Homo sapiens: one gene and its partners. The protein of the gene in region 1 interacts with the protein of each later gene in a pairwise test. Each region holds a gene or a part of one and is shown on either strand. Other genes may lie near its edges.

Region 1 (3,500 bases):
ATAGACTTCTAAAAGTGCCTCTTTTTTTTCTTGTTTCTTAATAATCTTCTAAGAATATGATTGCTGCTATTCCTGTGTGTACATTGGAAGAATTTGAAACTGATACACTGTTTGTAAATTGCCATGCTCTTGATTCATACCCTGAATCACCTTTCTCCTTCTCTGAGCTGTTACCAATCAAGATTACGTTGAAAGCCCTTCCAAATTGCAGCATGGCCAAAGTGTTGACTTGTCTATCATACTAAAACAGCAGCAAACCTTACACTAATACATCCTTGAACTTGGACATTCATTCAGCAATCTTGACTGGGCTCCAACCTTGGAGTGAGTGATGATGCCTGTTACCGAAGTGGGGTACAAAGAATATGCTGACAAGCCTGCCAAATGAGAACTCAGTTGTGGTGGGAGAGAAATTTTATTCCTGTTAGATCTGTGCTGTAATACAGTTCATGTTAAGTGTTCTAGAAGCACAGAGAGAAGGGATGGCAGTGCAGGGAAAGCCTGGCAATATATTTGCTAGGTTTTTCAAAATTTTTTTGAATTGCTACATCCAGAATTTAATATTTTGTCTGCTTTTGTGTAGTTCCCATTCCAGTTATTCAATTGGCATAATTATTTGATTATAATTTAGTTTCAGGTGAGGTGGTAAAGAAGAGAATACTTGTTCGGTTTGAAAAAGCAGCTTGAGGGGAGGAAGAGCATTAGGACAAATAACTAATGCATGCGGGGCTTAAAACCTAGATGACGGATTGATAGGTGCAGCAAACCTGCACGTTCTGCACATGTATCCCAAAACTTAAAAAAAAAAAAAGCAGCTTGAATATTGTATCCTTCCCCCTCTCCTGTACTAAAGATAGTAGGGTGTAATGTTAAATGTGCTAGACTACCAGGGTTTGAATTTTGGCTTTGTCATGTTCCAGCTCTGTATCCTAGGTCAAGAAAACTCCAGGCTTCAGTTTCCTTATCTGTAATGGGGGAAAGTATTTGGATCATTGTAAGATTGAATAAGTTCGTACACATAAAATGCTTAGAATTGTTCCAAGTAATTGCTACATGCTTAATAAATTATTTTATTGTTATTAAAATTAGGTAGAATCTCATTTGCTAAACATTGGGTTGTAAAGACAATGTGTGCACATTGTTATAAAAATGTGAAGAAAAGGCAGTGCGTGATGGCTCACACCTGTAATCCCAGCATTTTGGAGGCCAAGGTGGGAGGATCACGAGGTCAGGAATTCGAGACCAGTCTGGCCAACATGGTGAAACCCCATCTCTACTAAAAATACAAAAATTAGCAGGTGCGGTGGCATGCGCCTGTAGTCCCAGCTACTCGGGAGGTCAAGGCAGGAGAATTGCTTGAACCCAGGAAGCAGAGGTTGCAGTGAGCTGAGATCACACCCCACTGCACTCCAGCCTGGGCAACAGAGCAAGACTCCGTCTCAAAAAAAAAAAAAAAAGTGAAGACAAAATAATTTTGATATAAATAGCTGTACTCAGTTCCATATTGGGTCCTATGAGAAATGTAAAAATCAAAAGATAATAGAACTTGAAATTCTTTAAAGGTCATCTAGTTTGACTTCATAATTGAAACCCAAAGAAATTATGACCGGTTCAAGGTTTCTCAGTACATAACAGAAGTGTTGCTGAGAACCATGGCCTCTGATGCTACTCAGTCCAGCGCTCTCTCAGTACCCTGTGCAGCTTCCCTGAAGTGACAGCGCCCTGGAAAACTAACAGTTTAATTGGCAGCCAAGTCCAAAACAGGTGAAAACATTAGCAATAAAAAGTCAGTATATAATGGAATATCAGATGGTGTACATAGATTAAGTCCCTACCGTATTTAACTTTGTGAGCTGCTCTCTTGAAGCGGAAATGCACCTTCTTAGTAATTTCATTCATTGAAGGTTGAAAGATGAAGAGCATTTGTTTTTGAAGAGGGTGTTAATAAAGTCAATTTCCCTCTTTCCTCCTACCAAGGTTGGATTGTTCATTAAGCCAGGGGGAGAGTCCACTTTTGCCAGGTCTGCCAGTACTCCATGGCTTTGCCCTTGATGATAGTTGGGGAAAAGTCTGGCCTCTGTATTTCTGTTCCCTGTCTTCCTGATGGGCCAGATTCCCACAGACATTCCCTCAGGTATGAAGACTGCATTACCCTTGCTCATGGGTATGCGTACATATGTGGAACAGGTGCTAGAAGTGTACCTGATTGGTGGGATTTGTCTAAGTCGAGATTTCCACTCAAGGACAGGGCTGCTACTTTTTGGGATTGAGCTAAGAGTACTTTCACACATTATCTCATTTAATTGTGCTTGAATACTCTGCTGCTAAAAATTTTACAGAATAATACATGCTCCTATAACATTCAAGCTATATAAAGATATGCTATGGAAGAGGTGAAAGCCCTGCTCTTCTACCCCTCCCTGTACCCAAATTATTCCATCCCAAGAAGTGTCATTTGTGACATTTTGTAACTTTTCCAGAACTTTCCCCTAAATATATATAGGTAGTTTGAGTTAACAAAAAATGGTGATCATACTGTTCTAATTAACCTGTAACTTCTTTTTTTGTGCTATACATGCATATGTGCTTTAATCTTTAATAATCCCAGAATAGCCTGGCTGTACCATATGTGTTGGTTTTTAACAGTTTGTCCATGATGGATATTAAGATTGTCTCTAGTTTTTTGCCATTTCAAATAATACTGCAATTCAACAATGTCCTCAATATATATTATGCTTGCTCTCTTATATGCCTAGAAGTATGATTGTTTAGTGGAAAGATTTACACATTTCAAATATTTGTATACTGTTGGAATTGCCCTTTAAAACAACAAACTACTGATCTCTGGTAAAGTGCTATTTCCCTTACATAATTGACTATCTTAAAAAACTGTAGGACATTTGTATAATTTTCTAACCAGTTTTTGCCCAACAAGACTGCTTGCTGTTTTATTTTATGCATTTTTTATCACTCATGCCATTCTACCATTGGTTTTGGTGGTTCAGAATGGTGCTGTTTATCCCCATTTCCTGTGCTTATCATCACCATAATTGCCTTTTAAAAACATAAATTTTTTTTCTTAATATGAAAAACACTTTCATTTATAGAAAATTTGGAAGACACAATAAAATAAAAGTTATATTTTTGTGCATGAAAGTACATAAAGAAAGGAATGAAAGTCCTGCCCTTGCCTTTTCCCTATTTTTTAAGTTGGTTTTTCCTTGCAATTTTTTCTGTCCTTATACCAACTTTTGTGTTTATAGAGCAGAATTTATGCCTGTACATATCTACTGATATTTGTTTTTTTTTCCTGAGGACTAAATAAGCTCATATTAGATATGGTTTTGTAACTTTTTTACATTACTTAACAAAATATCATGGAAGTCTTTCCAAGAGTAAAATAGCTAATAATAGCTAGCATTTATTGAGCACTTACCATGTACCCATGACCTTTTTTTAAGCCCTCTACATGCATAAGTTTATTTAATAAAATTATTAAA
Region 2 (2,174 bases), on another chromosome or scaffold:
ACCAGCATGGCTAATATGGTGAAACCCTGTCTCTACTAAAAATACAAAAATTAGGCCAGGCGTGGTGGCTCACACCTGTAATTCCAGCATTTGGGAGGCCCAGGCGGGCGGATCATGAGGTCAAGAGATCGAGACCATCCTGGCCAACATGGTGAAACCCCATCTCTACTAAAAATACAAAAAAATTAGCTGGGCGTGGTAGCGCGCACCTATAGTCCCAGCTACTTGGGAGGCTGAGGCAGGAGAATCGCTTGAACCTGGGAGGCGGAGGTTGCAGTGAGCCAAGATCGCGCCACTGCACTCCAGCCTGGGCGACTGAGTCTCTCTCAGTCTCAAAAAAAAAAAAAACACACACACACACAAAAAACACAAAGCACAGAGTAAGGGATCAGTGTGGTCAAGGACATGAAGGAAATGGAAAAGGGATAAATGTTATAATTAATTAGGCCTGAAGATGAAAGTTTTCTATTATTAAGAGAGTTGTACCAGTCTGGGCAGCATGGAGAAACCCTAGCTCTAGAAAAATAGAAAAAATTAGCCAGGCATGGTGGTTTGCACCTGTAGTCCCAGCTATTTAAAAGGCTAAGGTGGGAGGATCGCTTGAGCCCAGGAGTTCAAGGCTGCAGTGAACCACGATTACGCCACTGGACTCCAGCCTGGGCGGCAACAGAACAAGACCCTATCTCAAAAAAACCAAAAAGATAGTTGTGCAATAATTAAAGAAAAAAAAAAAAACAGTAAAATAAGAGCAAATAAAATCCTGTTTGCTTCGATATGTTTCTTATCTGAGACATTTTTCTCCCCTTTTTAATTCCCTGGTAAATTTAAAGTTCTGAAGGTTTTGAACAATGTTTTGCCACCATAGAAGGAAAGAGCTATATATAAATCTACAAAGTTTGAAAAAGGACAGTGTTTAACTTTTTACAAAAGTCATCTTTACCAGTTAAAGTAACTGCCAAAGCATAATGTTTTGACTGTGGTGGAAATTAGCACTTACATGTGGAATATAGTTGTTTTATATGTAAGGATCTGAAGGTCAATAAAGGACTTCACTCTCTCAGTACTCTTAGGATCAGAAACAAGTTTTTTCTTTCTTTGGTTGGTTTTTTGAGGAAGGGTCTCAGTCCGCTGCCCAGGCTAGAGTACAGGGGGCATGATCATTATCTTGGCTCGCTGCAATGTCAACCTCCTGGGCTCAAGCAATCCTACCTCTGCCTCCTGAGTAGCTGGGACCACAGGTGCCTGGTACCATGTCTGGCTAATTTTTTTATTTTTGATAAAAACGGGGTCTCACTATATTGCCTAGTCTGATCTCACACTCCTGGACTCAAGCAGTCCTCCTGCCTTGGCCACAAAGTGCTGAGATTACAGGCGTGAGCTACCACACCTAGCCCTATTTTCTTCTTTTGTTTTTAACCCTTTTTCCTATTCAGAAAAAAAAGTGCGGCGGGCACAGTGGCTCACGCCTGTAATCCCAACACTTTGGGGGGCCGAGGTGGACAGATCACGAGGTCAGGAGATCGAGACCATCCTGGCTAACATGGTGAAACCCCGTCTCTACTAAAAATACAAAAAATTAGCCAGGCATGGTGGCAGGCACCTGTAGTTCCAGCTACTCGGGAGGCTGAGGCAGGAGAATGGCATGAACCCGGGAGGCGGAGCTTGCAGTGAGCCGAGATCGCACCACTGCACTCAGCCTGGGCAACAGAGCAAGACTCCGTCTCAAAAAAAAAAAAAAAAAAGCGGGGGGGGGGGGGGAAGGCCGGGTGCAGTGGCTAGTGTCTGTAATCCCAGCACTTTGGGAAGCCAAAGCAGGAGAATCGCTTGAACCCAGGAGTTCGAGACCAGCCAGGGCAACATAGGGAGACCCTGTCTCTACAAATAAAAAAAAAATTTGCTGGGCATGGTGGCATACACTTATGGTCTCAGCTATTCAGAAACTGAGGTAGGAGGATCGCTTGAGCCTGGGAAGTCGAGACTGCAGTGAGCTGTGACAGAGCCACCGCACTCCAGCCTGGGAGACAGAGAACCTGTCTCAAAAATAATACTAAGTGGGAAGGCTAAAATGAACCCTGTAGTGGCCGGGCATGATGGCTCACGCCTGTAATCCCAGCACTTTGAGAGGCCGAGGCGGGCGGATCACGAGGTCAGGAGATCAAGACCATCCTGGCTAA
Region 3 (3,500 bases), on another chromosome or scaffold:
ATTGCGTTATTTCCCATTAAATGATGGTTCCTCTGACTATCTGATTGGCATTGACTATGTTTGTTGTAGAGATTGCATACATCTAGTTTAACTCTGGCTGTCAAATGAGAGCAGTTACTCTTATCAGGATGGGTGTCAGGTTTGATGTCCCCTCCTTTTCCTGCTTCAGGTTAATTTGTCATGTTCTGTTTTAAACTGAGACATATAGCTTGACCTCCTTTATTTAGGCCATTAACTGCTCTGGGGTAGTTTTCCTGAAGGTTAAAAAGCCTAGCTTCATGATGGAGGTTAACCAACATGACCATGATGGCCAGGTGTATAAATCTGGCCTCTTAAAAATCTGTATTTGAGGCTGGGTGCAGTGGCTCACACCTGTAATCCTAACACTTTGGGAGGCCAAAGCTGGCAGATCACTTGAGCCCAGGTATTTGAGACCAGCCTGGGCAACATGGCAAGACCCCTTCTCTATAAAAAATTTAAACATTAGCTGGGCATGGTGGCATGTGCTGTAGTCCCAGATACTTAGGAGGCTGGGGTGGGAGGATGGCCTGAACCTGGGAGGCAGAGATTGCAGTGAGTTGTGATCTTGCCACTGCACTCCAGTCTTAGCAACAGAGTAAACCCTATCTCAAAACTTAAAAATCTGTGTTTGGCCCCTAGCCGTCCTCAGCTCTTGAGTAAATCTCAGCATCCTAGGCTGTTACATTATGGCCCAAATATTCAATAGAGATGCTGTATATCCTTGTTCCTCTCAAAACCCCTCCTCATCACCATCAAAAAGCTGGTTCAGTTCTCTACCTTTAGATAAAGAATCATCCCAAGACTCAACATGAGCTGCCGTGACTTGTCCAAGATGACACCTCTTTACAATGTAGAGCAGTGGACAGAACACAGGTCACCCTCCGCCGAAGGCAACTATCTACTGTCTAACATTGCCTCCTAGGCCTGCCATATATAACCATCAAAAACAGTTTAGAATAAAGTGAATTGTTACAATTTTTATTTTTCATTTTTGTGTTTACATTTACTCTCAATGACATGTTTATTCCCACCTAATATCTTGAGGCTAACCACAAAATCTGCAGCATTTCCAGACAGAAGATACTTGTGACTTCCCTGTACTATCCACTACATACTTGACCTCTTTCTCTTTCTTCCTGTCTTCCCTTTCTCTATACCTTATTGTCTTTCTTTGGAACCTCTTGTAACAAATTTTGAGCCATTTCTCCCCTCACTACTCAAATATCACTTTTATGAAGGGGCGGGGGGGAAACTTAGGTGGCAAAAATATTTTACAGAAACAGTTTTAAACATGTTTTGAAGCATACTGGTCACGTGTTAGAAGGCCAAAAGCCAGGGAATTCATTCCCTTTCATTCATTGTGCTGTCTAGGTTAAGTTTTCACAGGACTTCTTGGTACACTGAGTTTGCCTCAGATTGTCTCCTGCCAGTTACAGGGAGTGGAGAGGACTTTGATATATTGGTAATTAGAAGCATTGCTGATATGGTCTTCGGTGGGAGAACCTGTGTCTAAGGTTCCTTCTCATCTGTATTCCAACACTTTCATTTAATCCTACTTCATAAGTGCCTCCAAAGCAAGGATTTTTTTTTTGGTTTAGCATGGTTTCTTTGATATAACAATAGACCGACCAAGATTTTCCTTATGCCATCTGTTTTTTTGTAATTATGATGCAATAGAGAACTGTTTGCTTGTTTATCATTTAAATCTTGCCTTCTTCCCAAAACGATTTCAAATAGCTTGAAGGAAAATGAATAAAATATATTGAGCACCTACCCTATGCCAGACTCTATACTGAAGGGTTTCTATAGGTTATTTCATTTACTCCTTAAAACAACCACATGAGATAAGTAGTATTAGCCACATTTTTGAGGATAAGACTGAGGCTTAGGGAAATTGTGTTACAAGGCTAATAAGCGAGGTCAGGGATTCGAGGTCAGGGATTCAAACCCAGCGTGCCAAGGCCACTAACCATTATGTGGAAAGCTTAGGTAAGCGCTTGTATATAGGACAATCAAGAATAAAAGAATATGTCCATTAGAAGGATTGTACTGGGCTAATCTTTCGTTTTAAAGAACAGCAGCAGCATTGGAAAAGAGCGGTTAACAGTTTTTATTAGCCAATTTCTATTCTAGAACACTGAGAGGAGCTGTTGACAGGCCCTGGTTAGCCCCAGCAAGTAGTTGTATTAAAATTACCAAACTATAGGCCTGCATTAAGGTATAAAATAAGAATGGGGACTGGAAGGGATATAAATATCTGCTAAATATAATAATTTCAGTTCTAATCACTATTTTCTTCTGAAGATTATTTGCCAGTACATAGGCAGATCACTGTCTCTCCTTTAGGTTGATGGTATATGACTACAGACTTTGTCATTTAGGGTCCAGAAAGATCACCCTAGCTAGTAGCGTTTTAAGGTAGAGAACTAGATATTGTTTCATTGCCTGTGGTTTTCTGTTCTTGTAAGAGAATTGAGCTTGGGTCTTCACTGCCACGTGACACCTTCAGATAAGGGGCAGAGACAGCTGGCCTGAGGATTGTACAGAGGTCTTACCTTGATAGCTCCTCTCCAATCCTATGCATCCTAGGAACACTCAAGACACTAGGTTGTATCTTTGCAGATACTGTTTTAGTGTCTTCTGGAACCAAGTCTCTTACTTAATCCTGGCCTGGTTTCATATTCTCTCTATTGTATTCTCTCTATAGTTTTTGTCTTACTCTGGAACTCTTCCAAGGACAGACATTGAAGAAAGGTATTAGAATAGCAAAGGCAACAAATTGCAAGGTATACTTATGGCATAGCACATCCCATTAATTATAGAATAAAAACACAACATCTGTTTTCTGCCTCTAATATTAAATCTTGACATTTGCACAACACATTTTAGTTCATAAAGCTCTCATATCTCAGATAATCACTGAGTTAGGAGACTGGTTATCTGCAGAGGGCTTTATCCTTTACAAGGGCTCTTGGGTACGTTACTTCACGAAACCCTCAGGGAAGCTCCAGTTTCTTGGGGATCTGGGGCCGGGGCATATGTCTTTGGATACCCAGTTTGGTGCTGTGCACAGCACTGCTGTACCTCCTATTCATTTCCCATCTCTTACCCCACAAAGACTCCTTCCTTCATTCCTTCTATTGCTGATCTGTTTTCCTTCATCTTCCTAGGCTGCCAAAGTAAATGCAAAACAAGCACCAGAAATCTCAGCTTGTGATTTCTGAAGGGCATTTTTAAATGGCAAGTTTGGTGTGGCACTGTTACATGTTCTTTTTTCTTTGGAGAGCAAAGCCCTTTGAGAGAGCAGGAACTCTTCTGTCAATGCATACGTTGTAGGATCCATACTGTGGAATCTCTTGTACCTAGTGCTGCGTGAAAACAATGAGGATTCCAAGTCTACTTCACTGGACGTCGGTTCTCAAACTTTTAAGATACTAGAAGTCCTTTTATTAAGCCAAAAGACCCTATGTATTAATTCT
Region 4 (3,500 bases), on another chromosome or scaffold:
GTTGTTACCGCTAAAGTATGTTGGTTGTGCCACTGTTACCTCTTTATCTTATGCTTAAAGAAGTGGAGAAAGGAAAGGGAGAAAGACAAAACAAAGGAGAGAAGAAAAAGGTGAAAAGAGGCAGAAAGGAGGAAATAAGATAGAACTTAGGGTAAAATAAAACATTAAGAGAGAAAGAGGAAAAGGAAAGGGGATATGTAAAGGTAAATAATGTAGAGAAATGATAAAAAAAAAAAAAAAAAGGCACCCTTGGGATGCCATGGTGGGAGGATTGCTTGAGGCCAGGAGTTTGAGACCAGCCTAGGCAATATAGCAAGACCCCATCTCTCCAAAAAAATTAAAAATGATCTGGGCATGGTGGTGCACATCTGTAGTCCTAACTACTCAGGGGACTAAGGCAGGAGGACTGCTTGAGCCCAGTTCAAGGTTATAGTGAACTATGATTACACTACTGAACTCCAGCCTGGGTGACAGAGACACTGTAGCTCCAAAAAAAAAAAAAAAAAAGGTTGAAGGGAACAAATGAGGAGAAAGAAAGGGAAAAGAAGGGAAGGAGAGAAATCTCTTCCATATTCATTCCCTAAGCTGTTCCCAATAGTCTCTGCTCTTCTGAGGTGCCCGTCCCACTTCTCTCTGGGAAGATTATCTTATTTTCTATTTATCCAAGATCACAATCATCTCAAAAATCATCTACTCTTCATTTTATCTATCTCCACCCTCATACTCCTCTCCATTTCTTCTATCTTAGGATGATGTCTTCTCTTTTTCAAGGCTTACGTCTCTACTTTTGCCTTCAATCCCATCACTTTTGGCTTCTCTCTGACCCTTGCTCCCTCAGTTAACTCATTTATTCAATTTCAGCCACTGGGTGGCTCCCATTCTTCCATGGGCTTATTTCCTCTTGCATTTAAAAATAACAGGTTTCTTCAGCAAGGTATTGTAAAAAGCAGGGATTTGGAATCACATGGATTACTTACTCTCTCTCTTAGTCTAGTAGCTCTGTGACCTTGGGCTAGTTACTTACTCTCTCTGAGATTATAAATAACATTTGTATAAACCACCTTGCACAGGGATTGGCATACAACAGGTTCTCAAATTACTCCCCCATTCTCTTCAAAGGTTAAATTTTATAACTAAGAAATCACCATATACTGCCTCTATTTCCCTGATACATTTTCATTTTGTAGCCTCAGTCTTCAGAATAAAAGCGAGAGTCAGCAAAATGCTATCTCAGATGTATAGAAAACGGTGTTTTGATATCTCATATTTTGAAAAAAGAAAGCCGGGGGAAAAGGCCAGTACTGCGAGCTGTGCCTTCTATTCTGGGATCTCTGGTCAGGCCTCAGAAATCAAGCTGTAAACTCCATTATATGCCCCTGCAGTGCTTTCAGAGAAAGAACTGGTTGGCAATACAAATTCAGCACATTTAAAACCAAATTACTTTTGTCTGCATCTAAGAATCCCATTCTTTGTACCTCCCTAGCTACTCTGTTTCTACTGCTCATTACTCCCTTCATGATCTCATCCTATCTCGTGGCTTTAAATACTATGCGTATTCTGAAAAGCCCCAATTCTGTAGTTCTAGCACAGACCCTTCCACTGAATTCCAGTTTATTATATCTAGTTGTTTGCTCAACTTTTCTGCTTGGATTCTAATAGGAATCTCAAAATTAACATGTCCAAACCCTGTTTTTTTTGTTTTTTTGAGGCAGAGTCTCACTCTGTCGTCCAGGCTGGAGTGCAGTGGCAAGATCTTGGTTCACTGCAACTTCCGACTCCTGGGTTCAAGCGATTCTCCTGCCTCAGCCTCCTGAGTAGCTGGGATTATAGGTGCCTGCCACCACACCCAGCTAATTTTTGTATTTTTAGTAGAGACAGGCTTTCATCATGTTGGCCAGGCTGGTCTTGAACTCCTGACCTCAGGTGATCTGCCCACATTGGCCTCCCAAAGTGCTAGGATTGCAGGCTTGAGCCACCGTGCCTGGCCCAAACCCTAAGTTTTGATTCCTGTCTTTCCACCCCAAACCCACTTCTCTCCCAGTCTTTACCATCTCTATGAATGACAAATCCACTCTATCTGATGTTCAGACCAAATACTTCGGCATAATCCTTAACTTACTTTCTCTCATATTCCACATTCTATATAAAAACAAACCCTGTCAAGCTCTAGCTCCAAAATATATCCAGAATCCAATCACATTTTACCACTCCCACTGCTACTATTCTAGTCCAAGTCACCAATATCTCTTGCCTGGATTATTGCTTATTATTATTGCTCCTAAAATGGTTTCGTTGCCTCTACCTTTTACTCCTATGGCTACCCCAGCCCCATTGTGGAACTTTCTCACAGTAGCCAGAGTGACTATTTTAAAATTCAAGTCAGATTATATCTCGCTTCTGTTCAAAATTCTCCAATGACTTTCCATCTCAGAATACAATTCGAAATTCTTATAATGGCCTACAAGTTCTGACATAATATAATCTTATAAGCATTTTATTTCATCTCCTCCTTGACAACCACATCTCCACCATGATAAGTACATTCTCACTTTAAGACCCTCTGCCTGAATGCTGTTATCCCTGATAGCTTATGGCTTGCTCTTTTCATTCAGATTTCTCCTGTAAATGTCACCTATCTGAAAAACCTTCTCTGACAAGTCTACAGAAAACAGCACAATCCCCACTTATTTCACTATTCCTTTTCTCTGCTTTTATTGTTGTTGTTGTTTGAACAGAATTTATTACCACCTACATCTTGTAGGTGTTTGTTGATTTTTTTTTTTTTTTTTGGAGATAGGGTCTCACTGTGTCGCCCAGGCTGGAGTGCAGTGGTATGATCGTGGTTCACTGCAGCCTCGATCTCCTGGGCTCAAGCAATCCTCCCACTTTAGCCTCTCAAGTAGCTAGGACTACACACACCTGCCTGGCTAATTTTTGTATTTTTTATAGAGATGGGGGTCTCACTATGTTGCCCAGGCTGGTTTGTTGATTTTTAATTTACTATCTGTCTCAGTGGACCAGAACCTACATGAGAGCAGCAACCCCTGTGTTTTGTTCGCTGTTGCATTCACAGTGCCTAAAACAGTACCTAGTCCAAACAGACATTCGGTAAATATGTGCTTAATTGTTTCCTGCAGTCTTTAACTTTGTTAGGAGTGTCTCCATTATACTAGTCTTTCAAGCTTAAAATCCCTAGTGTTTAGCTTAGAATACATTGCTCTGTAAAGAGTTCTCCATTGGTTCTTCCTTCTTTATTTAATAGAGCTAATCTGTCATCACTTCCAAACAGTTCTTACCTAAGACATGCCTCATCCTTGGTAATCACACTTTCACGATCCTATTTCTTTTTTCTGTTTGTTTGTTTGTTTTGTTTTTTAAACGGAGTCTCACTCTGTTGCCCAGGCTGGGGTACAGTGGCACAATCTCGGCTCACTGCAACCTCTGCCTCCTAGGTTCAAGTGATTCTCCTGCTTCAGCCTACCAAGTACCTGGGATTACAG

Evidence for each region. The genes of interacting proteins can lie anywhere in the genome.
Region 2: the proteins of SSX2IP (region 1) and DRG1 interact in binary tests that used the Homo sapiens proteins (3 or more experiments, as listed by UniProt).
Region 3: the proteins of SSX2IP (region 1) and ZNF202 interact in binary tests that used the Homo sapiens proteins (3 or more experiments, as listed by UniProt).
Region 4: the proteins of SSX2IP (region 1) and ZSCAN12 interact in binary tests that used the Homo sapiens proteins (3 or more experiments, as listed by UniProt).

Annotation. Positions count from the first base shown.
Region 1 is NC_000001.11:84,680,462-84,683,961, reverse strand, and holds part of SSX2IP (afadin- and alpha-actinin-binding protein), read left to right. Parts: intron 1-1,494; exon of another isoform or gene 1,495-1,764; intron 1,765-1,977; exon of another isoform or gene 1,978-2,134; intron 2,135-3,500. UniProt on the Homo sapiens protein: Belongs to an adhesion system, which plays a role in the organization of homotypic, interneuronal and heterotypic cell-cell adherens junctions (AJs).
Region 2 is NC_000022.11:31,430,604-31,432,777, reverse strand, and holds part of DRG1 (developmentally-regulated GTP-binding protein 1), read right to left. Parts: intron 1-2,174. UniProt on the Homo sapiens protein: Catalyzes the conversion of GTP to GDP through hydrolysis of the gamma-phosphate bond in GTP. Appears to have an intrinsic GTPase activity that is stimulated by ZC3H15/DFRP1 binding likely by increasing the affinity for the potassium ions.
Region 3 is NC_000011.10:123,735,161-123,738,660, reverse strand, and holds part of ZNF202 (zinc finger protein 202), read left to right. Parts: intron 1-3,500. UniProt on the Homo sapiens protein: Transcriptional repressor that binds to elements found predominantly in genes that participate in lipid metabolism.
Region 4 is NC_000006.12:28,393,248-28,396,747, forward strand, and holds part of ZSCAN12 (zinc finger and SCAN domain-containing protein 12), read right to left. Parts: intron 1-3,500. UniProt on the Homo sapiens protein: May be involved in transcriptional regulation.